3 separate regions of the Homo sapiens genome follow, and all the other regions are linked to region 3. Evidence: fine-mapped expression QTL. A gene starts in region 3. Each other region holds a variant in brackets. All regions are shown on one strand. Distances are between the middles of the regions.

Region 1 (5,216 bases), 27 kb after region 3:
CACAGTTTAAGAACCTTAGAAATGATACAGTAAAACTACTATAAATCTGTCCTAAAGAAGGAAAGAATATTTTTGTTGTTGTTGTTGTTGAGACAGAGTCTCACTCTATTGCTCAGGCTGGAGTGCAATGGCGCCGTCTCGGCTCACTGCAACCTCTTCCTCCTGGTTCAAGTGATTCTCCCGCCTCAGCTTCCCGAATAGCTGGAATTATAGGTGTGCACCACCATGCCCAGCTAATTTTTGTATTTTTTGGTAGAGATGGGGTTTCACTATGTTGCCCAGGCTGGTCTCGAACTCCTGGCCTCGAACTCCTGGCCTCAAGTGATCCACCCACCTTGGCCTTCCAAAGTGCTGGGATTACAGGCGCGAGCCACCATGCCCGGCCCCAGAAGGAATCTTTTTAAAGGGGAAAAACTCTAGTTTCCCAGCAGCATCCTTGCCGACAGTGAAAGGCAGGAAGCTGTCTAGATGTCCATGGCAGGAGAGTTAGGCCCAGGGAGGGTGGGGTTGCATCTCACATGGGTGAGGGGTCCAGCCAAAGTCACCCTTGGAAATTTCTTCAATCACCAATAAAGTAAGACATTCGGGGTTTAACATAACAGTCCCTAGCGGTGATAAAACTTTTTTTTTTTTTTTTTTTTGAGACTGGAGTTTCATTCTGTCGCACAGGCTGGAGTGCAATGGCGTGATCTCGGCTCACTGCAACTTCTGCCTCCTGGGTTCAAGCAATTCTCCTGCCTCAGCCTCCCGAGTAGCTGGGACTACAGGTGCCCGCCATCATGCCCGGCTAATTTTTGCAATTTAGTAGACAGAGTTTTACCATGTTGCCCAGGCTGGTCTTGAACTCCTGGCTTCAAGCGATCCTCCTGCGTTGGCCTCCCAAAGTGCCGGGATTATAGGCGTGAGCCACTGTGTGCCTGGCCGGTGGTGAGGAATTACTACAGTGTCATACACACAGTCATGTGTCTTGTATACACTATGCAAAGTCTAATTTTACAGTTTTTTTTTTTTTTTGAGACAGGGTCTCACTTTGTTGTCCAGGCTGGAGTGCAGTGGCTCATTCATGGCTCACTGCAGCCTTGACCTCCCAGGCTGAAGCTATCCTCCCACCTCAGCCTCCTGAGTAGGTAGGACTACAGGTGTCACCACGTCTGGCTAATTTTTGTATTTGTTGTAGAGACGGAGTCTTGCTCTGTTGCCCAGGCTGGTCTTGAACTCCTGGCCTCACGTGATCCTCCTGCCTTGGCCGTCCAAGGTGCTGGGATTAAATCACTGTGCCTGACCCAGTATTTTATTTTTAAAGATGGGGTCAGCTAGGCGTGGTGGTGCGCACCTGTAGTCTCAGCTACTCAGGAGGCTGAGGCAGGAGAATCTCTTGAACCCGGGAGGCAGACGTTGTAGTGAGCTGAGATCATGCTACTGCACTCCAGCCTGGGTGACAGAGTGAGACTCCATCTCAAAAAAAACAAAACAAAACAAAACAAAACAAAGATGGGGTCTCCCTTTGTCACCCAAGCGGCAGCACAGTGGCGTGATCACAGCTCACTGCAGTCTCGACCTGCTGGGCTGAAGTGATCCTCCTGCCTCCGTCTCTCAAGTAGCTGGGACCTCAACTGCGTGCACCACACCTGGCTCCAGTATTTAGAGTGCATGTGTGCTGTTGACTTTACCAGGGGGTCTGTGCAGAGTGTGACACCACTGTACTCATTTCCGGGGGACACTGGCCATCATGAATGGCAACTCTGGAGACGAGTGGTTAGAGGGCTGGGTGGGTAGTCTTCGTAGTCTTCCTTGCTCCAGGCACTGATGCCTGCTCCCTTCTACCAGGGAAGTGCCCCAGCCCTTCCAGCACCAACGCACCAAACAAAAACATCACTATATCAGGGCGTGGTAGGTCCCTCAGGATTCCCCGATGTTCCAGACGCTGGCCAAGTCTGTGTTGCCCTCTCCGACGATCCTAGCTGCCGCCGGCATAAACGTCCACTTGGCGGTGCACGGGTAGAACCACGATCCTGCTGACGTCCGGTCCCACGTAACGATCTCCCTGCATCAAGATGCAGATTTCTGGCTCATGATCCCCGACCCTTTACAGTGGAAAACGACCCAGCAAACAAGGAGGGTGTGTAAAACTTGGAGGCGCAAACCTGAGGCAAAGCAAGGTCACCTCTGCACACACAGAGCCCACCTCAGGAGCAGTGCCCAGAAGCCATGGCAAGCACGAACAGCCACGGCAAACACGGGCCA[C/T]GGCAAAGACGAGCCACGGCAAACATGAGCCACAGCAAACATGAACAGCCACGGCAAACACAGGCCACAGCAAACACGAGCCACGGCAAACACGGGCCACGGCAAACACGAACAGCCACAGCAAACACGGGCCACGGCAAACACGGGCCATGGCAAACACGAGCCACGGCAAACACGAGCCACGGCAAACACGAGCCACGGCAAACACGAGCCACGGCAAACATGAACAGCCACGGCAAACACGGGCCACGGCAAACACGAACAGCCATGCCTGAACGGGCCCGGTTGCATCTGATTGCGGAGGCTAAGCAGGGTTGGGCCTGGTTAGTACTTGGATGGGAGACCAACTGGGAGTATCAGGTGCTCGAGGCTTTTGGCAAAAAAAAAAAAAAAAAAAAAAAGACTACATACGTACAAAAACTTTTCCATGTAAAAAAACCTTCAAGTCAAAACAGCGATGACAAATTGGGGCAAACATTTACAAAATAACTAATACGAGAAGGCTAAGTCCCCTAACATGTAGAGAGTTGTTATGATTGAAAAAGAACTCCATCGCCACACACAGGAATGGACATGGTTGAGTTCACAAAGCAATGGAAACGCATTTTGAAACAGAAGGGAAACTGTGCCATTTGACTCATCACTGAAGAAATGCAATAAAAATCAAGACCTTTCCATCTTTCTGATTTAGCAAAGATAAAAATGTTTGCAGACGCTGCACCAGGAGGATGTGGGCAGCATCTGCCCGAGGACGGTCACCACAGCACTGACCCGGCAGCAAAGGCCACCTGCGACCCGGAGCAGCCACTGGGGAGCCCTGCACTGAACCGCAGTGCGCTGCTGCGGGAGGAAGCCAGTGTCTTCCTGGAGACGGCTTCACGTCCAGGTGCGGAGGGGCCGATGAGCATTTGTGGGATGGATGGCTACTGCAAGCCGTGGGCGGGGGGACCCTGAGTGATGTCATCTCAGAAACCAACGCATCGGGAGATGCATAGAGTGCTACATGAAGTTGGCCACTGGTTGTGAGAGGAACCAGGTATATGGTACCGTGGGGGTGGGGGTGGCAGAGGAGCCTGGCTGTGCAGGGTGCAGGCCACACGACTTTGCCCTCTGCCTCATCCAGGGCCTGTAGCATTTCTGAGTGGTTGTGGGCAGCTGTGGGGCCTGTGCCTGTGTGTGTGCCTGGCCCCACCCACCCACCTGCCCCAGCTTGCCCACCTGCCTCACCCACACTGGCCTTCGCGGGCAGGCAGCGTCTGGACCCCAAGCGCCATAAGGAGGAAAAACCGTAATTCAATTTCTGGGTTTTGGTAAATTGGCAGAACTGACAATGGAACTTGACCTCGGCACAGCAGGCGTTTAAGTGAACGCCAGGGAGTGTCCTTCCTGTGGGGACAAAAGTGTCACTGTGACCTGCCTACAGCAGACAAGCAGCAAATCCTCATTTCTGGTGTAAGGACCTTACGAGCCCCAACTCCAGGTGGCCGGACCCTCAGCTACACACAAATTGTGTTTCCACTGGGGGGCCGAAGCCTGCAGTGGAGTCCCGGGCATCTGCACGTCAGGAAAGGCGCCAGGAGCAAGCAGCCGGCGCTCAAGGCAACATGCGGTGCTCAGCATGGTGAGGCGGGGCTGGGCTGCTCCCCTGCTGTGCACCACTGCCGCAGGGAGGGCCTGTCCGGCAGTTGCAGCATGGGTGCCGGCAGGGACACATGCCCACGGGGAGCTGACGGCCTGGGAAGAAGGGGTGTGCGGTGACCGCAGGAGGCGTGGAGACGGGGAAGGGGAGTCCAGTGGCTGCTGTCGGAGGGCTGGGGGCCCAGGACAGGGAGGCCCAGTGCTGCCCACCTGTCCCTGCCACACCTCCATGACTACACGTGTAACAGATGACAGACGGTCAAACAGACCCAGAAGCCAACCAAGGAGAGAAGGAAGAAACCACGCCAGGGTCTAGCTAGAAAAGGTGTTTCCTCCCATTTTATTTCATAATACATTTTCACAGAAACATGATATATTTACAAATATACAGGTAAGAGACTGCTGGTCAGAAATCTTAAAACTCAAAATGTCATCAAAAATTAATTTACAAAAGCCACCAAGGGTCCATGGAGGCGGCCAGGTGGATGGTGTGGCCGGCGTCTGCGTGAGCCTGCCCAGAAGCCCACGCAGCCTCCCGGCTCTGCCTCCGCTGGCCCCGTCTCAGGAAGCGCTGGTTTGCAGGTTTTTGGAAGCTGCAAGCATCGCTCTGACTTTGGCCATGAGATCCTGTGCAGGGCGAGACACAGAGGAGAACCTGTGAAGACCTGGCCAGACAACCCACGTGGTGAAGAAATTCATCAACGAGTTGGTGGTCAAGACCAGACGGTGCTAGCACCGTGGGGGCGGCGGAGGAGCCTGGCTGTGCAGGGTGCGGGCCACACGGCTTTGCCCTCGGCCTCACCCAGAGCCTGTGGTATTTTGCCCGAGATCCCTGTCCCATGACAGGGACAGGAGGGACAGGGAATGAAAATTAGCAACAGAGAAACCACGAGGCCCCTTGATGAAAGGCTGGGAGCGGGAGGGGGGCGTGCCCACTGACCTGAGTGATTTTGCTCTGCACGGAAGAAACGATTGCTGAAGAGATCTGGGCTTCTTTTTCCTGAGAGACTCCCCTAATGCAGAGAGAGAGAGAGCAGAGCTTACAACCGTGTGAAGATGCTGAGCCAAGGCCAGTGAACAGCATCCCCACCTCCGAACCCCAACTCTAGAACTGAGAAGTGCCCACTGCATCTGCTTCCAGTATCTTTTTTTTTTTTTCCAGACAAGAGTTTCACTCTGTCACCCAGGCTGGAGTGCAATGGCACGTTCTCAGCTCACTGCAACTTCTGCCTCCCAGATTCAAGCAATTCTCCTGCCTCAGCCTCCTGAGTAGCTGGGATTGCAGGCGTGTGCCACCATGCCCGGCTAATTTTTGTATTTTCAGTAGGGACGGG
Region 2 (5,216 bases), 72 kb after region 3:
TTTTCAAATTCATTCAAATTTAAAATAATATATGTTCTCATATACTTTATTTTCTAGTGTTAACTTCTAGTTGTAGCTTGTGTACTTAAAAAGATACCTATAATTTTCTTCCTCTGTCACGCAGGCTGGAACACAGTGGCGTGGTCTTGGCTCACTGCAACCTCCGTCTCCTGGGCTCAAAAGATCCTCCCACCTTAGCCTCCCAAGTAGCTGGGAGCACAGATGGGTGCCACCATGCCTGGCTAATTTAATTTAATTTTTTGTAGAGACATGGTCTCACGATGTTGTCCAGGCTGGTTTCTATCTCCCCGGCTTAAGTGATCCTCCCACTTCACAGCCTCTGTGAGGAGCTGGTGCTACAGGCATGTGCCACCATGCCCGGCTACATTTTTGTATTTTTAGCAGAGACGGGGTTTTGTCATTTGCCCAGGCTGGTCTCGAATTCCTGGACTCAAGTGATCTGCCTGCCCTGGCCTCCCTATGTGCTGGCATTATGGGCGTGAGCCACCACACTCCACAGCAATTTCTAAGCAATCTTTTCCATGTCTGATTACCAGTAGCACTAGTTTTATAATATTTTCCATTTTGTAGAATACAAATTAGAGACTTAAAAGATTTTTCTCCTGTTACGCAAGAGTCTGTTTCAGAGATGCCCATATGCCTGGAGGCTCAGCTGTGTCTCCCGAACTTTGGAATCTCTGTGGGCGCAATGACATTTCTGTCTCCGCATCTTTTCAAAGAGAGGCTGGCCTGTGCTTTTGAGAACTGAGAGTTAGCATGGGTTTTGTCAGATATTGAGTAGATCTCTGTTCAAGTGTCTCAGGCTTGGGTGGATGTAGACGGTAAACTTCTCGGTGTGTTGTTTCATCTGCCAGGTTCTAGGACAATCAGGGAAGTGTGGAGAAGGTCACGCTGGTTGGCAGCAGCCTTGTGGGCAGGGCTGCTCCTCTGCGGGCCCCACAGCTGGCAGGGGTCAGGTGCCTTCCCTGGGCTCACAACCCCTCTGCACACCCCATAGCTGGCTGGGTCAGGCGCCTTCCCTGGGCTCACAAACCCTGGGGCAGCAGGCAGGCTCGGGCTGTGGTTGTGTTCTGGGGTGTGAGAAGGGATGAGGTACTGCTGCCTCTGGGAAGCTCCCAGCTTGTTCCAGCCTCCTGCCTGCCCCTCTGTGGCTGACAGTCGACTCCCCTGGAGTCACTGCCCTGAGTCTCAAGGGTACTTCTCTGCAAGCTCCAGGTATGCTGCCTTACCCTGACCTATAGACAGTACCTCTCCCCGGGTTTCTAGAGCAGTAACCATTTTCCTCCTCTACTTATTACATTCCTTTGATTATCCCAGTGAGAGTATGCGGGTGGCCGGGAAGGGTGAGAGCTGGATCACTTGTGCTCAGGTAACCTACTCGAATGAGAGGCCCAAAGACACATATAGTGAATTGCCTAGTTAGCGGTTCATCCACATGGATTTGGTTTCGCTGAATGATCACCATTCTCATACAACAAGGCATCTTTATGCAAAGGACGGTCCTCTTATCACCCCAGCCCACTTCCTCAATCTCTTGTCTCCACTCTGCCTTTCCTTCTGACCCAAGAGCTGTCGCCTCGCCCCACTGCCACACCTCACCCCACTGCCACACCTGTCACACTCCATTCCAGGCCACCAATGCCACCAGAAATCTCTGAAGTCGCTCCAGTGGCTTAACCGCATCACAAAGTCACCAGACTGGATAAAGTTATTCCGCTGACCTAAAGCCTGTCAGATGTGCTGGCCCCTCCCCGACAGGGTGCACCGGGGCAAGCTGGCCAAGGCTCCTTCACCAGCCACCCCCGAAGTCACTGCTGACCACCTACCGCATCTCAACACGGGGCCGGGCAGCTCGCACCACGGGGCTCCTGCCTAGGGCTGCACCCCTGCCTCAGAGCTTCCCGTTCCTCTCGCAACACCAGCTGAACGCCTCTACTCCACAGAACCTCCCTCCCGCGGGGGGAGCCCACTGCTGCTCCACGAGGTTCCTGGCTAAGGGCCTGCTCTGGCCTTTGCTTCTGTCTGCTTTTTAATTACACTGACTTTGTATTTTTACATGCCTGTCTGTCCTGTGACATCAAAGTCTTGCTCCAAGAACATAACAAAGTAACTGAAATCGAGTGAGTGAAGTATTGCCTGGTAGAGATTCTCAAGGAATCTGCTTTGACAAATTAATAAATGAATTTCACTGGTACAACAGTTTGCATATAAATAGTTTCAGAAGTCCCAGGGAGTACAAAGGATTATTTGAAACTTTCTGTACAAATGTCCAGTACACTGAACAGACTGTTAAACAGACACATACCTAAGGGCTGCTCACACTCACGTTACCTCCAATGCCACGCGAGGCAAGCATGACACAGCATGGAAGGCAGAGGTTTCACCACAGCAACCTCCAGGGGGCCGCCAACCCCACCCCAGCCTGCAGGTGAGGGCGCTGAGTCTGAGGTCACCGAGGATCCTACGCTTGCCAACTTATGGTGGAATGTGCAAGGCCAACATGCAAGTGGCAGCATACCTTTCACCAGCTTCCCGTCCGGGACGGTCTTACTGGACGATGCCTCCTTCTTCCCGCCTGAGCCTGCCCGTGCTCCCACCTCGGCTGCGTCTTCAGGCGCGCCATCCTCCCCAGCATCACTTGGCTTCTCGGGAGCAGAGTCTGTGGGAGCCTCTTCTGGTGCAGACACAGCCTAGAGATTAAATGTCACTATAAACTGTCAGCAGGAAATTATACAGAAATTTTAAAAAAAGAGAGATGTATACGGTATATGTTTCACTGGACAACGGCAATTGTACATTACTGCCCAAGCAGCACTGGGAACAGACTTCCAAATCCAGATCTGCTGTTTTTTCTTACAATGGAATGTATCAAAGAGGAATGGAAGATTTTCTCCTGTCTGAAAAAACACTATACTCTTTGAAGCCCTAATACTGCCTTGGGAACCAATTTTCAGTATCTTTTCTTTGGACACTGATTACTCAGAATTCTTTAAAAATACCAAATTATCCCCATCACCTACAGAGGAGTCAGTTTCTTTCAGTGTGGGC[T/C]ATTGGAGATAAGGGTCTGAAGAAATCTCCTGAGAAGTAAGGCCCATGTCATCTCCTCACCAAAACTGGCTTTACAAAAATGTCAGGGTGTCTATATAACTGAGAAGAGCAGAGCAAAGGCAGAAGAGGGGGCTGTAGGACAAAAAGCACTTCCAAGTGCGCCAGCACCACGCTGGGGATCTGGTGAGGGGGAAGGGCGTGCAGGCACAGGCAGAGGCCGTGCTGCAGGACACCCCCAGCACCAGCTGGCCAGGCATGAGGCGCCCACTTATATTTTATATATTTCATACATGTTAACACAACAGAAGCAAGGTACCCGGCTGTCATGAAAGGTAGCTAGTAACTGTAGACGGCCAAAACATCGAACAGTTGAAGGAACAGGATTTTTTTTGTTTGTTTAGAACGTGCTGGACAAACAATCATCAATGCTGTGAACGTGGGCAGATGCTTTCAACAGATCAGGTTCCAGAGCTAAGGGGGACGTGAAAGATGGAGTATGCCAGACACACATTAAAAAAAGGTGAAGAATCACCCAGCCCTTTCACCTGTAGGAGAAGAAACAGAAAGCGACTTCTGATCTGGAAGGCGGAGCCACCTCTAAGAGCTTCACAGCCTCCCTGCATTCAGACACGTACCTGCATGCTATCGCCCCCTTCTTTCTGGAGGAAGAACTGCTTCTTAAACTCATAATAAGCATTATACTGGTGCCACGGCTGCAGGAACTCAAATCTGAGCAGAAAAAGAAAGAAAATGGGTCATTTACCAAGACAAGCTCACTGAAGTAACAACAGGCCCTGTTCTCCTAGCTCTTTACTGATCTCAACAATCCCACAAGGTGGTTACTGTTTTAGCTACTCATCTTATAGACGAGGGAGACTGCACACAGGGGGTCGAAATCGCTTGCCCGGGGTTACACAGGTCACGCTGCAAATGTGACAACATATCTTTACGTTTTATTAGTACTGAGGCGTGGGACATTGCTTGGTTTTTAAAAAGAAGGGTTTGTGTCTAGATTTTTAAGGCAGATTCTTGAAAACCATGAATTATAGGCTTTTATTTTAGGTAGCTTCAAAATTCCTACTTAAAAAATGAAACAAAAAACAGGTAACATAATTTAAAAACACCACCCAAGTCTAAGCAATTTAACAAGCCAATTAAAAAATGTATTTATCTAAAGACATTGGTTGGGCGTGGTGGCTCACATCTGTAATCCTAGCACTTTGGGAGGCTGAGGCAAGTGGATCACTTGAGGTCAGGAGTTTGAGACCAGCCTGGCCAACACAGTGAAACCCTGTCTCTACCAAAATACAAAAATTAACCAGGCGTGGTGGTGCGCGCCTGTAGTCCCAGCTACTCAGGAGGCTGAGACAGGAGAATTGCTTGAGCCCAGGAGGTAGAGGTTACAGTCAATCAAGATCGCGCCACTGCACTCCAGCCTGGGTGACAGAGCAAGACTCCATCTCAAAAAAAAAAAAAAAAAAAAAAAAGACATTTGAGCCAAGAAAAGGCTTAAAAATATATAAAAAAATTAATTCTGTACCTACATTTTTTTAAAAAAAGGCTAAACGAAACCCCCAAATGCCATATACCTAACATATAAAATTCTTCTTCTGACCTTTGATCATTCTTGGCACGAACACTGGTCTCGAACTTCAGGCCGTTCCTGGCGACATACTCGGCCAGCTTGTCAATCACGGGCTGGACGTCGGGGGGCGGGGGGATGATGGCGGCCACGGGGGCAAGTGCACTGCAGGAGAAGAGTCTGTGAGACCCCTGGGCTTCAGGGGCTCGCCAAGCTCAGTCCTGGCTGCTCGGGGGTCCTCACCGCCTCAGATGCCCGGAGAGACATGTGAGTTATAAACAGTGTGTTAGGGGAGGCTCTTGTTGAAGGTGATGCACACGACAGAAACTAAAGTCAACTAGACAGGATTGTTGTCAAGAGTGAAAAATGGGGATTTTAGTGATAAAAGGTGCATTTTTCCTACTAATTAACATTTCCCCCCAATCACAAGCTAATTCTTAGAAATAACAAAGAATAAGCAGTTTGTTGTTGTTGTTGTTATATTGAAAACAAGTCGGCAAGCATGGTTCAACCTCCTTCATTTCCTGTCTGACTTGCTCAGCATGACCAGAAAGAGTCGTTTTCA
Region 3 (5,216 bases):
CGGGGGGACAGTGCGCTCTTTTGTCCCCGCCGGGGGCTCCTGAAAGCCCGGCTCCGCAGCCCAGCAGCCTGAATCCCGGCCTTGTTCACGTGCATACGGGGGGCGCTCCGGGGCGGGCCCTCCCCTCCAGCCCCGGCTCCAGCCCTGCTGGGTGCAGCTCTGTCTGCAGCTCTGAGACAAAGGAGCACTTCTCGTCCCTGGCGCCCAGACCTGAATATCAGTCCACTCCGGGAGCGCCTCCGGCGAGCGGGCGGAGGAGGAGTCCCCGCTCCCGCCCAGATCCCGGCCTCCTCGTCCCTCCCCGCGGGGAAGCCGCCCGCCCCTGGGCCTGAGCTCGGCCCGCGGTTCCCCGAGGGCCAGCAGAGGACGCCCCGCACCGCCAGTGTGAGCAGGAAGCCGCGGCAGGACGGAGGCTCCACGCCAGGCCGGGCCCGACACGGAGCGGGGCTCCAGGCAGGGGGCTGCCCGCAGCGTCCTCCCTCTCCGGCTGGACACCGGGGCCCCACTCACTGCCCCCGGCCAGGCTGGGGAGCCACATCCTCCGCTCGGTGCTGTCGCAGGGCGCGGGGCGGGTGACCCCCGGGGTGCCAGGAGAGACCGAGGCGCAGGTACCAGCCGAGAGGAGGGCGCCTGACCCACTCTCTCCGGGCAGGGGGGCAGGTGGGTGGCGAGAAACTTCCAAACCGCACTGGGTCTGATCAGCCAACATGGCTCGGCCGGGGGTCCATCCTCCTGAGTGTGTGGGCCCCACCTTGAGTCCTTCCCTGGCATTGCCCCGGCCCCTTCTGCGGCACCCTCGGACCTGGAAGGCGGGCCTGGGTTCACCTCCCTCCACAGCTGGAGACCCCAGGCCCCCAGGGCGTGATTCTCAGTGGGGGATCCGGGAGATCCGCACCTACAAAAGGGTCTTGAGGAGGTGGAGGGGGGCACCCCAAGTTCACAGGCTGCCTGGCTGGAAGGAAGCCACTGTGGGGACCTGCAGGCACCTGGACGCGGGCAGCAGGGACAGTGGCCAGCACCCTCCCAGATGGCTTCGGGGCCTGGGGCAAACGGTGGCCAAATCGGCTTCCCATCCAGACCCCCTGGCCAAGTCCTGCCAACCACAGGGGCTGCGGGTGCCACCCAAGTGGCCCCTCCATATGCCTCGACTGCCTGAAATACACCTGCGCTGACTTGCTTGGACCCCAAGGTTTTGGAGCTCCTGAATGTCCACTGCGCTGGGCGAGGGGCCCTGCCAGGACCCCACTGGGAGACTGTCCGCGGACGAGGGCCAGGCCGAGTACTTGTGTGGGGCGGGGAGGCCTCGGCTCCTGGCCCGACTCCCTGGGTAGGAGTCCATTGAAGGCAGCGGTGGGGCAGGAGCCTCAGAAGGAACCAACGAACCCAGCGGGAGTTCACCCGGCCGCCCCAGCGGGGGGGCGCTGACCCCACGACGTGTGCTCTAAATCTTCCGGGTCCACAGGAGACGCGAGTCCCGGCTGCGGAACAGGGGAGGGGGCTGTAGGAAGAGGCCACGTCGCTGCCCCCAGGCAGGGTTTCTAAGCTGAGCTGGGGACAGCTACTGGGTGTGGAGTGAGGAAGGCTCTCCCCGCGCCCCCGGCTCAGCACTGTACCAGGGCAAGGCAGGGCCAGCCTGGCCGACCTGGGGTGGAGGGGAAGGAGGCTGAGGGCCAGGTCCTTGTCCAGTGGGGAGCTGGGGGCCAGCATCCCTGTGCCCCCAACACCCTCAACCGAGCAAACTCGGGGGCTCAAGGCTTTCGGGGTGCCCCCACTCCGTAGCCCCTGCCCTTCCTCGCTTTGTGGGTGCGTGCTCCTGCCCCCGCCACTCCCACCCGGAACGCACGCAGCGCGCAGAGCTCGGGGCGGCCGCGATGCCTGCTCTCGCCCAGCCCGGCTGCTCCGGGGCTGCTGCAAGCCGGCGACCCGGGCTCCGGGTGGGCGACCCCCTCACAACTCCACGGGCTCCTGCGGCTGCGGCGCGCTCCCAGCGCACGGAGCCGGGACGGCAGCCGGCGCCTCCCCAGGACTCGCGTGCGCTCGCCCGGTCGCTCAGCCCGCGTCCCTGCCTCAGTCTCCCCACCCAGGAAATGGGTCCAGGGCGCCAGGGCTCCCGCGCGACGCCGACGTGCACTGCTGGGGTCTTCCCGGTCCCCGCCACCCGGCCCGCGGAGACCCCCGGCTCCGGCCCAGGAGCTCCGCGCCCGTCCCGCCCGCGCGCTCACCACTCCCAGGCTGAGGTCCTCGGCGCGCGGCGCGGGTGCGGGCGCGGCGCAGCCCCCGCGGGTCCCCAGCGCCAGCAGCAGCAGCAGCGGCAGCGGCAGCCGCGAGAGTCCGGGCCCTGGGGGCGGCGGGCCGGGTCCCCGGGCTGCGCGGCGCCGCATGGCGCTCACATGGGCCCGCGGGCGGCGTGCAGGGTCCCGCGCCCTCCGCTTCGCGTTCCGCAGCCCGGCGCCCTCCGCTCTCCGCGGCGCCCCCGCCGGACTGAGCCCCGCGCGGCAGCCTCAAGCGGCGGGGCGGGGCCATGCAAATGTATGCTAACGAGGCCGGCCGCCTTAAAGGGCCCGCGCCGCCTCGGACGCTGCCACCCCCGCCCGCCCCGCCGTGTCCGCGACGGGACTGGGTCCGCGGCATCACAGGGAAGGCGTTTCCCCGGGTGTCTTAGGACGCTCTTGGGGCGGCGGGGACGCGCGGGATGGGCGCGGAGGCGGGGGTCGGGGCGCCTGCGGGGAGCTGACCCTGACTCCCCTCTCCGGCCGCGCTCCCGGGTCCACCCCCCACGGCGCCGAGGCCCGGGTTCAGACCCGGGTTCAGGCCCCGGAGCCGCCGCCGCAGCGCAGCAGGTGGGCGCTTGGTGGAGCCCGCGGACCGCGGGAGAGGGAGGGTGGGGCTTGGGGGGCGCGGGGGACTGGAGGGCGAGGGCGGGTGTTGGGGGGGCTGGGGTCCTCGGCGGAGGCTCTGCGGTCCCTGCGGGCCTGGGAGCGAGAATGTTAACTTGTAATGTTTGTTGGAGCGCAGCGTGTGCCTGGCACATGCCCAGGAGTTACATAAATAATTTCATTTACTTACAACATTTATGAGATGAAAACTATGATTTCCATTTCGCAGACAAAGAAACTGAGGCCCAAAGAAATGAAGTAACTTATGGGAGGTCCTGGAGCGGGCAAGCGGCAGAGCCAGGGTCAGAGCCCGAGCAGGCGCTTGTGTGGATTGAACTCGTGCAAGTTGCGTACAGGCTGCCCACCGAGTGGGAGATCTTGGGAGAGGGCAGGGGGTGAGGTTCAAGGGTAACCCTTGCCTTTATTCAGCTTCTCCTCGTGCTGGACAGCATGGCTTCCCCTCCTTCCCAGGCCCTCCTGCTCCACCACCCCAAATCGCAGCTGGTACTGTCAGGACTGAGGTCTCATTCTACGGACAGGGAAACTGAGGCTCGGCCCCTTTTACCAGAACTGGTCTCAGGGAAGTGGTGCCCCTCCCCTCCTGTGAGGGCCGACTCCCCCCAACCACCCCCCCCCCCCCCCCCCCGCTTCCCTGGGTACTCTGGCCCATCCTGTCCCTGCTGCCCTCAGAGCCTCCCTGGCCCGGTCTGAACAGGGTGATTCCACACCTGCTTCAGATGACCTTGGTTCGGACTGATGGGATCACCTGTAGGAGGTGGGGACTTTCACAGGACATCCCGGATTGTTTTTTCTTTCTTTCTTTTTTTTTTTTTTGCTCTGTTGCCCAGGCTGGAGTGCAGTGGCACGATCTTGGCTCACTGTAATTTCTGCTTCCTAAATTCAAATGATTCTCCTGTCTCAGCCTCCTGAGTAGATGGGATTTCAAGCGTGCACAACCGTGCCCAGCTAATTTTTGTATTTTTAGTAGAGACGGGGTTTCACCATGTTGGCCAGGCTGGTCTTGAACTCCTGACTTCAGGTGATCAGCCCGCCTTGGCCTCCCAAAGTGCTGGGATTACAGGCGTGAGCCACCGCACCTGGCCTCATCCGGGATTTTGACCAAGTGCATCAGGACAACCTGGTTTCCAGAGCAGAGACCCAGCCAAAGCGGCTGTAGTCAAGGAAAGGAAGCGTATGGGTATGGGCTCAGGAAACGGTGGCGTCCTAGCGTGTGCCAAAGTCAGGCAGGGCTGGACCAAGTCTCACAGCAACAGCGTCAGAACGCGGTTTCTCTCAGTCCATCTCTGTGTGGGGCAAAGACGGCCCAGGGCAGCTCCTGTGCATCCTTCCCCCTCAGCAGGCCCAGCCAGAGACAGACTCTTTCTCAACCAATGGTCCCAAGGCCACCTCTCTCTGGATTCTGGGTCAGGACCTGATCGTGGGGCCAGGGGCAGGGAAGTGAGCTGAAGCCCTGGGCTGGAAGGGATTCTCTACAGGAAATCAGAGGTGCTGAAGTCAGAGGAAGGGAGGGTGGATGGCAGGCAAAGCTGGGTCGAGGACTCAGAAGAGGGAACGCGGCCAGTGCCCCCACTGCATCATGGGGCTCATACACATCTGAGACTTGGAACAGGACGCTGTTGAGGGGCTGTAGCTCGGTGCTGGCAAGGGGCTTCACCGCGGGGCTTGCTGGCATTGAAGGGAGATGGCTTGTTTATGGAGCTTGGGCGACAGTGGCTTGGGATGTACAAATGTGAGAAGGGCCTTACAGGCAGGCCACTGTTCTCCCCAGAAAGGCCTGGTGGCGGCTGGTGAACTGGAGATGCTTGGTTAGACATCGGGAATTTGACCTTCCTCAAAGCAGCTGCCTGGCACCATGGCTGCTGTGTTCCCTTCAAGCCTGCCACCCCATTCGGACATCTGAAAGCCGCTGAGATCCAAGCCCCGCAAGAAATCGCTCTTCTCCCATCAGCTTTGCAACGCTGAAAAATCATGACGGCACGGTGGCTCACACCTGTAATCCCAGCACTTTGGGAGGCTGAATTGCAGGCGGATCGCTTGAGCTCAGGAGTTTGAGACCAGACTGACGAATATGGCGAAACCCATGTTTCTACTAAAAATATAAAAATAGCTGTGCATGGTGGTGTGTGCCTGTGGTCCCAGCTACTTGGGAGGCTGAAGTGGAAGGATCACTTAAGCACAGGAATTCCGGCGAGACAGAGCGAGACCCTGCCACGAAAAAGAAAGAAAGAAAGAGAGAGAGAGAAAGAAAGAAAGAGAGAGAGAGAAAGAAAGAGAGAGAGAGAAAAAAAAGAGAAAGAGAAAGAGAAAGAGGGGAGGGAG

The links. PIP is the estimated chance that this variant, and not a neighbour inherited with it, causes the effect.
Region 1: its variant is the best candidate, but not a certain one, in a credible set for the expression of MMP17 in lung (GTEx, PIP 0.55).
Region 2: its variant is the best candidate, but not a certain one, in a credible set for the expression of MMP17 in aorta (GTEx, PIP 0.65).

Annotation. Positions count from the first base shown.
Region 1 is chr12:131,798,716-131,803,931 of GRCh38, reverse strand. It overlaps SFSWAP (splicing factor SWAP), which reads right to left. Exons shown (of 18, transcript NM_004592.4): 17 at 4,823-4,895; 18 at 4,194-4,509. The coding sequence ends at 4,444. It also overlaps the pseudogene RNA5SP378. Among named protein-coding and RNA genes, the nearest start is that of MMP17, 27 kb to the left of the region's middle. RefSeq lists an enhancer at 2,753-3,602. The variant C/T (reference allele first, on the strand shown) is at 2,245.
Region 2 is chr12:131,753,968-131,759,183 of GRCh38, reverse strand. SFSWAP (splicing factor SWAP) reads right to left here. Exons shown (of 18, transcript NM_004592.4): 9 at 4,685-4,816; 10 at 3,705-3,798; 11 at 2,540-2,711. Among named protein-coding and RNA genes, the nearest start is that of SFSWAP, 45 kb to the right of the region's middle. The variant T/C (reference allele first, on the strand shown) is at 3,070.
Region 3 is chr12:131,825,660-131,830,875 of GRCh38, reverse strand. MMP17 (matrix metallopeptidase 17) reads right to left here and starts at 2,483. Exons shown (of 10, transcript NM_016155.7): 1 at 2,223-2,483. The coding sequence starts at 2,381. RefSeq lists silencers at 240-499, 2,489-2,618 and an enhancer at 147-756.